4 linked regions of the Homo sapiens genome follow. The protein of the gene in region 1 purifies or fractionates together with the protein of each later gene. This does not show direct contact. Each region holds a gene or a part of one and is shown in the gene's direction. Other genes may lie near its edges.

Region 1 (5,385 bases):
TGCTTGTAATCCCAGCACTTTGGGAGGCCAAGATGAGAGGATCCCTCAAAGCCCAGGAGTTCGAGACTAGCCTAGGCAACATAGTGAGATCCCTTTTCTACAAAAAATACAGAAATTAGCTGGGTGTGGTGGTGTGCGCCTGTAGTCCCAGCTACTCTGGAGGCTGAGGTGGAAGGACTGCTTGAGTTTGAGAGTTCAAGGCTGCAGTGAGCTATGTTTGTGCCACTGCGTCGCAGCCTGGGCAGCAGAGTGAGACCCTGTCTCAAAAGCAAACAAACACACACACACAAAAACTATCTAAGGTCTGAGTGTGGAGAACAAGGGGCATGCTTAGATCAGGGGCCTAAGACAGCTTGTAATTATTCCGTACTTCATCAGCCCCAGGTCTTGTAGTCCTGGCTTTTCCATGTCACTTCCTCTGCCTCCCATGACCCAAGCCTTTTGCCCAACAGCTGATGGTGACATGGGCCCAGGAGTGCCCCAGCTGGTGCAGACAGAGTCCCACCTGAAGGCCGGGCTAGGAGAGGCCATCTCCTGGGTTGACCTCTTAAACAGCATCTTGTACTTTTTCTTCATGACAGTTTTTACAGTTTGTAAACATATATTAAAATCATCTGTCTGTTCCGTCTCTGGCCAGTCCCCAGCTCCTGGAACACAGACCTAGACCCAGCACAAGCAGGCACTTGGTCATTAGATGCCCTGTGGCTGAATGCTCCCAAGATATGGACAATCAATCCAGGAATGACAAATTGTCTTACTTTTCACTGTCAAATCAGGAAGCCCAGGGTGTCGCCAGGATTTGTGGAAGGCAGAGTTTGGTGGCACACGATTGTGGGCGGGGCACAAGGGGTGAGCAGAGTGGGCCGTGTGCATCAGTGACCTCCAGCCCCGTGCACCACCCCCAGACCCCAGCTCCATGCACCACCCCCAGACCTGTCCACCACCCCCAGACCCCAACTCCATGCACTACCCCCAGCCCTGTCCACCACCCCCAGACCCCAGCTCCATGCACCACCCCCAGCCCTGTCCACCACCCCCAGACCCCAGCTCCATGCACCACCCCCAGCCCCGTGCACCACCCCCAGACCCCAGCTCCATGCATCACCCCCAGCCCCGTGCACTGCCCCCTGCCCCATCTTCATTTGAGTGCTCATCTCCCACGTGGGTGGATGCAGCAGAAGTCCTGGCCGTGGATGTGTTTTCGATATGGGGACAGCATCTCAGACCCTTACTTTTGCCTTCAAAGAAAGCATGAACGCCTGGTAAAAGCTGAACAGTGGGCTCTGTAGGTATCTGGTTCTAGAAAGCCTGTTCTCATGACCCATCCTCTCCTTGGAGACTTGTTCTTCACACAGTCCCAACCAACCCCTGTTTTCCTCCCTTTGCAGACAAAGGAGAGCTGTTTGTATGGGGCAAGAACATCCGAGGGTGCCTGGGAATCGGTCGCCTGGAGGACCAGTATTTCCCATGGAGGGTAAGGCTGGCCGGGGAGGTCTTGAGAATGGATGCTAAGAGTAGAGTCACCTGACGTCACTGCAGACACCTCGCGTGCAGATGGGCCAGGACGAGGGCCATGGGACCTGCTCCCCCTTCCGGGTCCTGGCTGCACTCCTGCAGCGCGGCATGCTATGTCATTGCACACTCTGTGGTGACACCCATGAGATACCCGTGGTGCATCTGCATGGTGTGATGCGTGGGGGAGTGACACCAGGCTTCTTGGGGTGCAGGAGCTGGGTCAACCCATCCCGGCCCACTGACTGGGAGGTTGGAGGGAGTAGCCCACTCAAGCATCCAGTCCTATAAGAAGCCCTGTCGGAGGCCATCCTTGGGGTGGATCGGGGAAACAGAGGCACGATGGTGCAAAGGCTCTGGTAGGGTGCCATGAGGCTCCGGAGAGGGGGAGATATTGGATGAAGTTGGCACGCTAGAAGCTGTTTACAGAAGCCCATGTGGGGGAATGCTTCACAATGAATTTAAAAGAAAGCAGGATGTTTAATATTTAGATGGCCCAACCGCAGCTATGAAGTGAAAAAATAAAGTCGCTTCCTTAGGGGCGGTAGTATGCAATTAGACAAAAAGGCTCCTTCCAGAATTACAGGGGAAGAGACGCTCATTCTAAAATTGTAGTTTACCTTAGTGTTGTTTACTAAGTCAGTTCTTTAAGGCATTCTAAAAAAGGAGGTTTTTGGGGTTTTTTGAACATGAAACATATGTTCATGGTACAAAAAAATGCACTATGGAAAATGAGTCTCCCACCACCCAGTTTTTGTTCCAGAGGCAGCCACTGGTCCTGATTTCTTTATGTTCCTTTCCAGAGATAGTCTCTGCATAGAGACTGGTGTGCATGCGTGCTTTGTGTGTGTGTGCCTGTGAGTACATACATGTGTGTGCAGTGTGCATATGGGTGTATTTTATCAGAAGGTTGGATTTTAATTTGTTTTGAAATTGTGAAAAGCGTTTTTAAAAAGGACTTGCACCAGGTGTGGTGTCTCACACCTGTAATCCCAGCGCTTGGGGAGGCCCAGGTGGGTGGATCACAAGGTCAGGAGTTCGAGACCAGTCTGACCAACATGATGAAACCCCATGTCTATTAAAAATACAAAAATTAGCCAGGCATGGTGGCACACGCCTGTAATCCCAGCTACTTGGGAGGCTGAGGCAGGAAATCACTTGAACCCGGGAGGCAGAGGTTGCAGTGAGCCAAGATCAGACGCTGCTGCACTCCAGCCTGGGCAACAGAGGGAGACTGTGTCTCAAAAAAAAACAAAGGACTTGCAAAAGAAATGTGTATATATATATGTGTGTATATATATATGTGTGTATATATATGTGTGTGTGTATATATATGTGTGTGTGTGTGTATATATGTGTGTATATATATATGTATGTATTTATATGTGTGTGTATATATGTGTGTATATATACACACACACATATAAATATATATACATATATAATACATTTATATTATACGTTTATATATATTAAATATATATATATATATATTTTTTCCAAGACTATCGGTGGAGGCTCTGAGAAAGCAAGTTGAAATGGAGACTTTAACTTTGTTTTTTTGTTTTTGCTTATTATGAGACAGGGTCTCACTTTTATCACTCAGGCTGGATTGCAGTGATGTGATCACAGCTCACTGCAGCCTTGACCTTCCTGGGCTCAGGTGATCCTCCCACCTCAGCCTCCTGAATAGCTGGGACCACAGGCGTACACCACCACACCTGACAAATTTTTTTATTTTTAGTAGAGATGGGAGTCTCACTATGTTGCCCAGGCTGGTCTCAAACTTCCGGCTTCAAGCAATCTGCCTCCCTCAGCTTCCCAAAGTGCTGGGATTACAGGCATGACCCATCACGCCCGGGCGACTTTAGCCTTGTTGGAAAGCTGTTTGTATAATAGAGTTGTTCCCAAGGTGGTGGGGCTTGCCGGCTTTCTCCTGAGCCTGGAAACTGCCGGTGTGAGGAACAGAGAGTCGGGCAGTGGGTGTGGCTCAGATAATGTGAGCATCAGTCATCTACATGCCCACTTGCTTTCTCACTGACTCCTCTCTTCTCTCACTTTGCCCTTTCTTTCGAAAAGGACTTCCTTCTGAGGGGGGAACTTGGGAAACAGTTAAAGCAGCCGGGTTTTGGGTGAAAGAACGCTGACGAGGGTCTGCCCCCCGCCCTCATTTCCTTCAAATCAGAGTGATCAGCCTGAGATTTGACTCAGGTCACGTTGCCCCTGCCATAAGGGCATGTGCAAAGCGCTGGTCCCTGTGCGGGCAGGGAGTGGCCGGAGCCCGATCCCGTTGACATTCCATCTGGGTCACTTGCCCTGGCTCGCCACACACCAAGTGTCCTTCTGGTCATTTGCTTTTTATTTTTATTTTTATTTTATTATTATTGTTTTGAGATGGAGTCTTGCTCTGTTGCCCAGGCTTGAGTGCAGTGGCATGATCTCAGCTCACTGAAACCTCCACCTTCCGGGTTCAAGTGATTCTCCTTCCTCAGCCTCCCTGGTAGCTGGGATTACAGGTGCATGCCACGACGCCTGGCTATCATTTGCTTTTTAAACACATTTGTGCCTTTGGGAAAAGAGCACCCCAGCCTGTCCCCGTGACGGCGGCATTTGGCGCCAAACCATTGTCCTTCCTCTTGCACATTCAGGGAGCCCCTAAGGGTTTGTGCACGGAGTGGCCTCGACCCCTGTCCTCTTTGGATTGGGGTGGGAGAGTCCAGTCCCTTCTGATGACTCACTTAAAAAAAAAATTACAAGTGATTTTTCTTTTCTTTGTTTTGTTTGTTTGTTCTTTTAGACAGGGTCTTGCTCTGTCACCCAAGCTGGAGTGTGGTGACAGGATCTCGGCTCACTGCAGCCTCTGTCTCCCAGGTTCAAGTGATCCTCCTATCTCAGCCTCCCGAGTAGCTGGGATTACAGGCTTGCACAACCACACCTTGCTAATTTTTGTATTTTTTGTAGAGATGGGGTCTTGCCGTGTTGCCCAGGATTTTTTTTTTTTTTTGAAAACAGGGTCTTGCTTTGTCGCCCAGGCTGGAGTATGGTGTGATCACACTCACTGCAGCCTCAAACTCCCAGGCTCAAGCTATCCTCCTGCCTCAGCCCCACAAGTAACTGAGATGTGGGATGGGATGACAGGCATGTGCCAGCACCACACCCAAATAATTTTTTTTTCGTTTTTTTTTTAAGAGACGGGGTCTTATGTGTTGATCTCAACCTCCTGGTCTCAAGTGATCCTCTTGCTTCAGCCTCTGGAATAGCTGAGATTACAGGCATGTGCCACCACACACGGCTTATTTTATTATTTATATTTATTTGTTTTATTTTATTTATTTGAGAGATGAGGTCTTCCTATGTTGCCCAGGCTGGTCTCAAACTTCTGCCTCAAGTGGTCTTCCCACCTTGGCCTCACAAAATGTTGGAACTACAGGGGTGAGTCACTGGCTTGGGTGATCTTTATTCTTTAAAACAACTATGTTCAAATTAATCTTCCGTAGGGGATATATTACATCATTTAAAAAGTATTCCAGAAAAGAAGAGAAAAAAAGAGTAAAACTTTACTTGTAGCTCATACACTGGTACCAACTAGTTATTCTTAGACTTGCAGAATTTGGCCTTTTCTGAGTATGTGGGCCCGGGAGGTGACATCTGAGCCACCTGATTCAAACCTCTGCTTCCAGAAACTTTCCAGGACATGTTTTTTTGCTACACGTTGAGACTCATCCCTCAGAGAGGTTCAGTGGTTTCCCAGGGTCACATATCTAAGTTGGAGTCAGAGCCAGGATTTGGACTCAGTTACATCTGACTTTTAAGACAATGGTCTTTCCACGGCCACCCACCTCCCTGGGCGAGCCTGAAGCTGGTGTGGAGAGA
Region 2 (2,555 bases), on another chromosome or scaffold:
GTAGAGACCAGTCTTGTCATTTTGCCCAAGCTGGTCTCAGACTCCTGAGCTCAAGTGATCCACCCACCTCAGCCTCCCAAAGTGCTGGGACTATAGGCATGAGCCATTGTGCCCCACTCCTTCTTGGTCTTGACTTCCCCGTCTCTCTGCCCCCTGTCAAAGAACTTGTAAGAATAAAGTGTCAGTAGTTGATCAGATAGTCCTAGATTCAGAATTCCGAGATAACTTTTTTTCTACCCATTAAGATTTTTTCTGGCTGGGCACAGTAACTCATGCCTGTAATCCCAGCACTTTGGGAGGCCACGGCAGGCAGATCACAAGGTCAGGAGTTCAAGACCAGCCTGGCCAACATGGCAAAACACTGTGTACACTACAAATAGAAAAATTGGCCGGGCATCATGGTGTGTGCCCGTAGTCCCACCTACTCAGGAGGCTGAGGCAGGAGAATCGCTTGAACCTGGAAGGCGGAGGTTGCAGTGAGACGATACCGTACCACTGCACTCCAGCCTGGGCAACAGCAAGACTCCGTCTCCAAAAAAAAAAAATTTAAAAAGATTTTTCTTATGGTGGTTTCAAAAATGGTTGTGTGGCAGGCTGGGTGCAGTGGCTCACGCCTGTAATCCCAGCACTTTGAGAGGCCGAAGCGGGTGGATCACCTGAGGTCAGGAGTTGGACAGCTGGGTCAACATGGTGACACCCCATCTCTACTAAAAAAGACAAAAAAAATCATCCAGGAGTGGTGGCACGTGCCTGTAATCCCAGCTACTTGGGAGGCTGAGGCAGGAGAATTGCTTGAACCCAGGAGGTAGAGGTTGCAGTGAGCTGAGATCATGCCACTGCACTCCAGCCAGGGCAACAGAGTGAGACTCTGTCTCAAAAAAAAAAAAAAGGTTGTATGGCAATAAAACAAACAACTCACACTCACACACCAAAAAAACTAAGAGGCCAGATTTGCTTTTATCCTTGCAGACTCTGGCCATCTATGACCGGTTTGGCCGGTTGATGTATGGACAGGAAGATGTACCCAAGGATGTCCTGGAGTATGTTGTATTCGAAAAGCAGTTGACAAACCCCTATGGAAGCTGGAGAATGCATACCAAGATCGTTCCCCCATGGGCACCCCCTAAGCAGCCCATCCTTAAGGTAAGGTGGCTTGCATGGTTTAAGAGAGCTGAGGCACTACTCGTGGTCTCCTAAGCCACTCTGTCGGGCTCCACCTAGTGGCGAGAGGGGGTGATGCACCACCCAGGAAGGGAAGGCCGGGTGGGTGGGTGGGTGGGAGCAAGGGATGAAGCTCTTCTGGGTCAGCCATGGGCTTGGTTGGTGGGTAACCTGGCGTCCTACTCTTTCAGACGGTGATGATCCCTGGCCCTCAGCTGAAACCAGAAGAAGAATATGAAGAGGCACAAGGAGAGGCCCAGAAGCCTCAGCTAGCCTGATGACAAAAATGACTTCTAGGGTGAAGCCTGGGTGATGAGGCTGCTGGAAGCTTTGAAGTCTCCCATTCCCCTCATGCTATAAAAAGAACTACCTTTGTTCTCTCCCATCCTGCTCAGGTCTTTTCAGCAGTCTCATCATCAGCAACCATGACTGATGACTGGGCCCTAGCAGGTGGCAGGTATAACATGGCCATGGACACTCTTCTTTTTTAAATTTTATGTCTAGCTTCTGAGTCTAGATGAAAGACAGTATGTTTCAGAGAACATTGGATATCAGTTTTTCCCACAGCAGGGACTGTGAGAGACAACCAGCAGCATCCTCTTTGTAATCACAGGGCAGGGATCAGAGTTTGAAATGAAATGTTGTCAGGGTGTTGGAAAAATTTTGGTGAGTTCTGCACATTTCCCCTGGTTCAGGCTGGGCATGGACCAGCCTTCAGATGGCAGAAGTGGAAGATGAGCCTACTTGTGAGCGATGTGACTTTAAGGAAATGAAGACTGGGGAAGAATAATTAGTGTTTATAAGACATTTAAGAGGCCCTTTTTCATATACTGACTCACTGATGAATCAGCATTTGCATTTTATGGAAAAATATAAATCCAAAGAAATAATTTATCCCTTAGCCTTTGATTGTGTTCTTAATTATTAGCTGTATCAGGAAGTGTTGGGGGAGGCAGGGGCCATGGAGAGGTTGTTACATTTGGAAAATTTATCTGCAGTACTTGGTTCCCTGATTTCTAGCACCATTTGGAGATGGGGACTGTTCTTTCCAGCCCAGTATTGAAGGTGAGTGTACAAAAGTATGAACCTGTGCAGAGGAAAATAGGCCAGCCCCTCCTTGTTCCTTAGCTCCAGATGGGCTGTTAAAAGGGTGTGGGACCTCACATGCCCATGTGTCCTAGGCCATCTGAGTGTGACAAGAGAAATCACTTTGTTTTTGTTTTATTTTGTTTTTTAGAGATGGAGTCTTGCTCTGTCAGGCCCAGGCTGGAGTGCAGTGGCACGATCTCGGCTCACTGCAAGCTCCACCTCCTGGATTCAAGCTATTCTCCTGCCTCAGCTTCCCATGTAGCTGGGACTACAGGCATGTGCCACCATGCCTGGCTGATTTTTGA
Region 3 (3,511 bases), about 15 Mb from region 1:
AAAAACATTAAAAGAAATAGGTCGGACATGGTGGCTCACACCTGTAATCCCAGCACTCTGGGAGGCCAAGGTGGGCAGATCACGAGGTCAGGAGATTGAGACCATCCTGGCTAATATGGTGAAACCCCATCTCTACTGAAAATACAAAAAAAATTAGCCAGGCATTGTGGCGGGCGCCTGTAGTCCCATCTACTTGGGAGGCTGAGGCAGGAGAATGGCGTGAACCGGGAGGTGGAGCTTGCAGTGAGCCAAGATCACGCCACTGCACTCCAGCCTGGGCAACAGAGCGAGACTCCATCTCAATAGATAAATAAATAAATAAATAAATAAATAAATAAATAAATAGATATGAGCTATTAAGCTATGAAAAGATGAAAAAAGTTGCAAAAGTTTAAAGATAGTCATTGCATTGTTTAAAGTTATTTTAAAAAAACAAATAATACACACTTGTTTGCATAAAGAAAAAGTTGTCTATGAATTCCACCACCCAGAGATGACTATTAACAGTGTCTGTCTACCTGTATACACATTTTTTACAATGTTGTTTAGAGTGAAAAATTGTAGACAACCTGAAAGTCTGTCAATAGGAAATTAGTTAAGTAAATTACACTTCACCATTGAAAAGTGTTCACCTTATATGATTCAGTTTAAAGAGTAGGCCAAGCAACTATAAAGTAGTTTTCCCCTACTTCCTTCAAAAAAATATGAAAACTTGAACATTAAGACTCTATAAAAACTGCCAATTTTTTGCAGACAATAGAGGGAAAAAGAGCATGTTAAGTGTCCATGTAGGTGCTAGTAGAAAAATGAAGACTTTGGAAAAGAAACTCTGTAGGACAACTGACCCAGTTTCTTTAAAAATAAAATTGCAGATAGGAAACAAGATGGTAGGGGGAGCTTGAAAATAGATTTGAGACACACCGGGTATTTGTAACGTACAGACCTTACTTGGATTTCTATTCAAACCAAATTTTAAGAAGTATATTGCCAATGTATTAATATTTGTTGAAGCTAGGTGATAGCTAAATGGAATTCATTACACCTCTCTACTTTTGTATATGTTTGAAACTGTCTATAAAATTTTTTTTTAAAGCAGTTTACAAAACAAGGTAATGTTTTGTCAGTGTATAGCTGGAGTTAGAAAGTTACAGGTGTTTTTCTTTTTTTTCTTTAATTTCTGTTTTTTCTATGACTTCCAATGGGTTTTTATTTTTAAATCATAATTGGAATAATTATTATACACTTTAAATATTGAAACATCTTCAGTGTCCAGCATGAATTTATCTTTACCTTTTATGTAAGTGTATGTTCTCAAGTTTTTCAAGATTATTTATAATACATTTATATTCTACTTTTAATCCCAAATATATTCATGAAGTCTACTTGAATTGTTAGGAATTCAGAGATAATAATATTGACATTTGTGTATAATTTTATATTCTTGTTTCAGATTCCCAAATGCTGGAAAATCCTCTTTGCTAAGTTGTGTTTCTCATGCAAAACCTGCAATTGCAGATTACGCATGTAAGTGTAATTTGATTGTACATTTTAATGAGTGGAGGTAAACTTTTAAAGACTAATATTTCTCTGAGAATGAATAAAATGATAACTCGGAGGGTATCCTTAACTGAAAAATTTTTGGCAGATAGACTACTGTTGCACAGGCCAAAGTGCAGTTGCATGATCATGGCTCACTGCAGCCCAGGCTCAAGCCATCCCCCTGCATCAGCCTCCCATGTAGATGGGACTACAGGTATGTGCCACCATGCTTGGCTAACTTTTTTTTTTTTTTTGTGGGGACAGGGGTTTCGCCATGTTGCCCAGGCTGGTCTTGAACTCCTAGGCTCAAGTGATCTCCCACCTTGGCCTTCTAAATTGCTGGGTTATAGGTGTGAGCCACCCTCCCCAGCCATATTTTCCATTAATCTTTGAAACCTCTATACCCCTCAGCAAAGTTGCTTAAACAGGTTAGACACTTACTTTATTGCATTTATTTTTCTGTCACAGAATCGTTTATTTGGTTTAGTTAGGATTTTATGAACCACTTACCTTTTATCAGGCACTGTGATAAGTACCAGGAAGGTACTTATCATTCATTTAGCAGATACTTATTTTTGGAGCCACATTAGGTTCTGGGATTACAAAGACTGATAAACAGAAACAGCTCCTGTTTTGACTTGTATTGAGTTTGTAGACTAGTGGAGTAAGGCGTACATATCACTAATAAATATAAGGGAATATGAAAGGGTACTATGAAAGAGTATAGATGACTGCTCTAGGCTTCCTTAAGGATGTGTGATTTTTGGACTGGGATATGAGGAATAATTATGAGGTAATTAGTAAAATAGAGTGGAGGGTGAAGGGTCTTTAATCAGAGGAAATAGTATGTACACAAAGCCTTAGTGGTGGCAGGGAGTAGATTTGTGTGTCTAGAGAACATGAAATAAGGGAAAGAATCGAGATGAGCCTGGAGATGTAAGAGAGCATGTCACATAGACCATTTAGGCTGTATTTGATTTTTATATCTTAAGAGCAATTGGAAGCATTTAAGCAAGGGATAAAATGCTTAGGTTTGCTCCTCACAGAGATCTCGGCCTGTAATGTAGAAAATGGATTGGTGTGGGACATGAAGGGTCTGAGACAACCAGTTAGTAGGCTCTTGTGGTAGCTAGATGAGATATAAAAGAAGCTTTGGTTAAAAGTAGTGAGTATGATAAGATCTCTGCCATCATTAAAAGGACACAGAATGCCATTAACTTGGAAAATAAAATCAAGCCATTCTAAAATTAGACTGTGACGAAGTAGAGTGAAGTTTGGACTAAGTGCTATAAATCACAAGGCCAATATTTGTTATAATATATGTAGGACTTGAGAAGGAAGAGCAAAAAGTCATAGGAAAGAGGCTAGCGTAGGATTGATGAGGCTTAAGGATAACAATGAGAAGGAACTAGAGGATAACTGAATGAGAAGGAACTAGAAAAATTTCAGCCACAGATCCAGTGATAGAAACTTAATATCTGACCCTCCTGAACATCTATCACTCACCTTAAAGTGCAATAGAAGAACGTTGAGGTTCAGTAATTACATTAGGCCTATACAGATTATAAAAATCTGTGTTTGTCTTTTTCCAAATACTATTTATTCATTTATTTTAGAGACAGGGTCTAGCTATGTCACCCAGGCAGGAGTACAGTGGCATGATCATACCTCACTGTAACTTTGAACTCCTGGGCTCAAGCAATCCTCCCACCTCAGCCTCTGGAGTAGCTAGGACTACAGGTGCACTGCCATGTCTGCCTAGTTTTACATTTTTTGTAGAAACAGGGTCTCACTATGCTGCCCAGGCTCATCTTGAACTCCTAGCTTCAAATGATCCTCCTGCCTTGGCTTCCCAAAGCATTGGGATTACAGACATGAGCCACAACATTTGGCCCTCCAAGTACATATTAAATAGCAAAGATAATAATAGTTTCCATTTTAGCAAATTAGAACAAAATCTGAATTGAAATAT
Region 4 (3,511 bases), on another chromosome or scaffold:
CCCTGAGAATCAGATTGACGTGTGTTCAAAGGGTATCTACCATTTATTAGTGGTGTCACTCTGGGCAAGCGACTGCCCCTGATTTTGATCTTTTCTGTCTTCATTTGTGCTTAACCACGTTATACTGTGTACCATTAGCTGTGGGTGGTAGGATTAGGCTTGCAGTTCTTTTAACCCATAGTATTGATAACTAGATAATTTTAGTTGGTTATAAAACTGTAGTGGTGGTCCAGGCGTTATAGAAAATCTAGCATAATTATGAAAAGGTTCTGGAGCCTGACACCTTATGTTCTAATACTGCCTTTGCTACTTCCTTGTCTGTGTGTTCTTAGACAAGTTACTCAATCTCTAAGCCTGTTTACCCATTTTTTTAAATGAGGAGAATAATAGTAATACCCATGGAGTTTTTTAGTGTGAGTTAAATGAGTTAAAGTCTATAAAATGTTTGTCTCGTGCAAGACATACAGCAATAGCCAACATTTATTGAATGTATACACTTATTATGAGATAACCAACTGTCCAGAATGATGTGTGGATACTTACTTGCAAGGCTGATTTTCTTATCTCTTTTCTTTGGAATCGTTACAGATATTGGCCTTCTGTATATGTTGGGAAACTGACTTTTCTTTGTTCCCCAGACAGTTCGTGGAAGTTATGGCTAGTGCTCTGACTGGTTATCTTCACACTATTTCTTCTGAAAACTTATTGGATGCAGTATATTCATTTTGCTTGATGAATTACTTTCCCCTGGCTCCTTTTAATCAGCTTCTGCAAAAAGACATCATCAGTGAGCTGCTGACATCAGGTAGGATGTTAGTGCAGAATTGGTCACCAATTGTGACCAATTCTGCACTACCACTAGCTACCATATGACTCTGAATGGGGTCTTAGTTGGAGCAGTGTTAGTTGAAATTTGCAGAGCAGGTGTTGCTGTGGAAAGGGCTGATAATGGTGAAGTCAAAGGATAGTGCTTCAAAGCAGCAAACCTACAGACCCTTCTTTAATGACAAGTCCTACATGTAGAAAAAAATAAGGAATGCATCATTATTCCTTTTATTTATACTCTATCCTTCTATACAAAGGCTAACTGTTCAGGCTGTTCTTTATGCTTTGATCAGAGCTGTTTTAATTCCTAATCCTTACTTATCACATTTGAAGCCAACCTAAGTCAATTTTTGCAGCTGTAAACACTTGGTCACTCCTGGCCTGTGATGAGGGAACACCTGTTAGATCAAGAAACCAAATAGCCACCAAATTAATTAGTTCATTTACTCTTGGAACCAAATTAACTGTTGACTTTTAGTCTTTAGTATTAAATAAGGCAAAGCAATATTCAGGTAGATGTACAAAATTTGACGATGTGTCTGAGAATAGAGTAGTTCAGAATTAAAACATAAATAAATAAATGTTATAAAATCCCAAAGTTGAGTTGTAGAGAGTCAGTCAATAATACCACGTGCTGGTTTTTCAGGCAGTGTAATAATGGAGAAACAGCCTTGAACCTTGGAAACCTGGATTCTAGTTCCAACTTTGCCTTAATTACGAGGCTTTTTAACTTTCCTGGGCATTTCCTTATCCATAAATTGAGGAGTTTAGACTAAATGACCTCTAAAGATATTTGAAGCCTTAAAACATTATCAAGTGCAGGGCTTTGATTTAGACCCTGTGGAAACCAGGGAGACAAAGAGAGAGTCCTTGTGATAAGAAAGAGATAATTAGAAATACAAGTGCATTTATGTATATATTTATTATTTTATAACTATTACTAAATATATACTAATATAGTTTTTTAATGTTGCATTTATTTCTTCTTAATGATATACTCTCTTTTTCATCTTTTAGATGACATGAAGAATGCTTACAAGCTGCATACTTTGGATACTTGTCTAAAACTTGATGATACTGTCTATCTGAGGGACATAGCCTTGTCACTCCCACAGCTGCCGCGGGAGCTGCCATCGTCACATACAAATGCAAAGGTGGCAGAGGTGCTGAGCAGCCTTCTGGGAGGTGAAGGACACTTCTCAAAGGATGTGCACTTGCCACACAATTATCATATTGGTATGGGACATTATATGATTTCCTTTCATTTTATTGTATTTATTTTCCTTTTTTTCTGACCAAAAAAATAGGTATTTGTGGCAGCAGTTTAGTGTAGTGCAGCATTGCCTCTGGAACTGGCCTGATTCTTGCCTCATAAAATTCTTGTGACCAATAAATGAAATTCTACACATTTTTATGTGTCTAAAATCCCAAGACTAGTATCTGACACATGGTTAGCTCTCAATATATTTTAGCTACTGCTATTATCATTATTGGTAGTACTATTAAACATTTTGAAACAGAAAATCACTTGGGGCTGGTCACGGTGGCACACGCCTGTAATCCTAGCATGTGGAGAGGCCGAGGCAGGTGGATCACTGGAGCTCAGGAGTTCAAGACCAGCCTGACCAAATGGTAAAATCCTGTCTCTACCAAAAAAATACAAAACTTAGATGGGCGTGATGGCATGCCCCTGTAGTCCCAGCTACTCAACAGGGTGGGGTAAAAGGATTGCTTGAACCTGGGAAGTTGCTGCAGTGAGCTGAGATCACACTACTGCACTCCAGCCTGGATGACAGAGCGAGACCACATCTCAAAAAAAAAAAAAAAAAGGAAAAGAAAAGAAAAAGAAAGTCACTTGGAGGAATGTTTGAAAAATTAATATCAATTCTTTCCTTTCAGATTTTGAAATCAGAATGGACACTAACAGGAATCAAGTGCTACCACTTTCTGATGTGGATACAACTTCTGCTACAGATATTCAAAGGTTGCTTACATATATTTCATTTGCTGGGCTTTCTGAATTAAAATCCTAATTCTAAAAGACTTCATATTAAATAGCAGTAGTAAATCTAAGACTTGATGTTTGTATGGAGCCTGCAGCACACCAAGAGACTTGTCATCCATCAATGTACTCCTTAGAAAGTGTAAATGTGGACGTTATGGTTGAATACAATGGACTACAGTATTGGTCATTTAATGAGACAGACATTTTTTTAAAATTAGGTTTTGAAGCTATAGTTCAATAAAACAATATTAATATAATTGAAACTATCAATGCAGTGTAGACTTTGGACAAGATAATATAATAGTGATCATAAAGAATAAAGACTCGAGGCTTCTACAAAAATCAAATACCCAATAAATATTTTGCTCTACCACCAAGACTTTTCCAGAGGTAGAGAAACCGTAGTTTTTTAATTAAACTGTATTTGTATGGGTTAGAGCACATTGAAGCTAATCCTAAGTTGTTTCTTTGGCTCACACATTACAAATAGAGTGTCTCTGGGGAGAAATATGATGCTATACCATGAGAGAACATCCTGCCTCTTCAGTAGATGCATAAGATCATGCCATCATTGCACACACCCGTGGGTCAGTTACCCTTTATGTAAAAGCTCTGCTACATGGATCCTGACCCCAAGGAACTTGTATCTTCTGTTAACTCCACTGGACACACACACACACA

Evidence for each region. The genes of interacting proteins can lie anywhere in the genome.
Region 2: the proteins of RCC1L (region 1) and MRPL45 fractionate together in Homo sapiens (co-fractionation; one large-scale study listed by BioGRID). This does not show direct contact.
Region 3: the proteins of RCC1L (region 1) and GTPBP10 purify together in Homo sapiens (affinity purification with mass spectrometry, with the first as the bait; one study listed by BioGRID). This does not show direct contact.
Region 4: the proteins of RCC1L (region 1) and FASTKD2 purify together in Homo sapiens (affinity purification with mass spectrometry; one study listed by BioGRID). This does not show direct contact.

The regions. Positions count from the first base shown.
Region 1 is NC_000007.14:75,048,800-75,054,184, reverse strand, and holds part of RCC1L (RCC1-like G exchanging factor-like protein), read left to right. Parts: intron 1-1,388; coding exon 1,389-1,474; intron 1,475-5,385. UniProt on the Homo sapiens protein: Guanine nucleotide exchange factor (GEF) for mitochondrial dynamin-related GTPase OPA1. Activates OPA1, by exchanging bound GDP for free GTP, and drives OPA1 and MFN1-dependent mitochondrial fusion. Plays an essential role in mitochondrial ribosome biogenesis.
Region 2 is NC_000017.11:38,321,157-38,323,711, forward strand, and holds the end of MRPL45 (large ribosomal subunit protein mL45), read left to right. Parts: intron 1-969; coding exon 970-1,143; intron 1,144-1,352; coding exon 1,353-1,439; 3' UTR 1,440-2,055; downstream 2,056-2,555.
Region 3 is NC_000007.14:90,370,705-90,374,215, forward strand, and holds part of GTPBP10 (GTP-binding protein 10), read left to right. Parts: intron 1-1,450; coding exon 1,451-1,524; intron 1,525-3,511. UniProt on the Homo sapiens protein: May be involved in the ribosome maturation process. Complements an ObgE(CgtA) function in E.coli ribosome maturation. Plays a role of GTPase in vitro. When missing, disorganization of the nucleolar architecture is observed.
Region 4 is NC_000002.12:206,786,095-206,789,605, forward strand, and holds part of FASTKD2 (FAST kinase domain-containing protein 2, mitochondrial), read left to right. Parts: intron 1-638; coding exon 639-805; intron 806-1,842; coding exon 1,843-2,061; intron 2,062-2,724; coding exon 2,725-2,809; intron 2,810-3,511. UniProt on the Homo sapiens protein: Plays an important role in assembly of the mitochondrial large ribosomal subunit.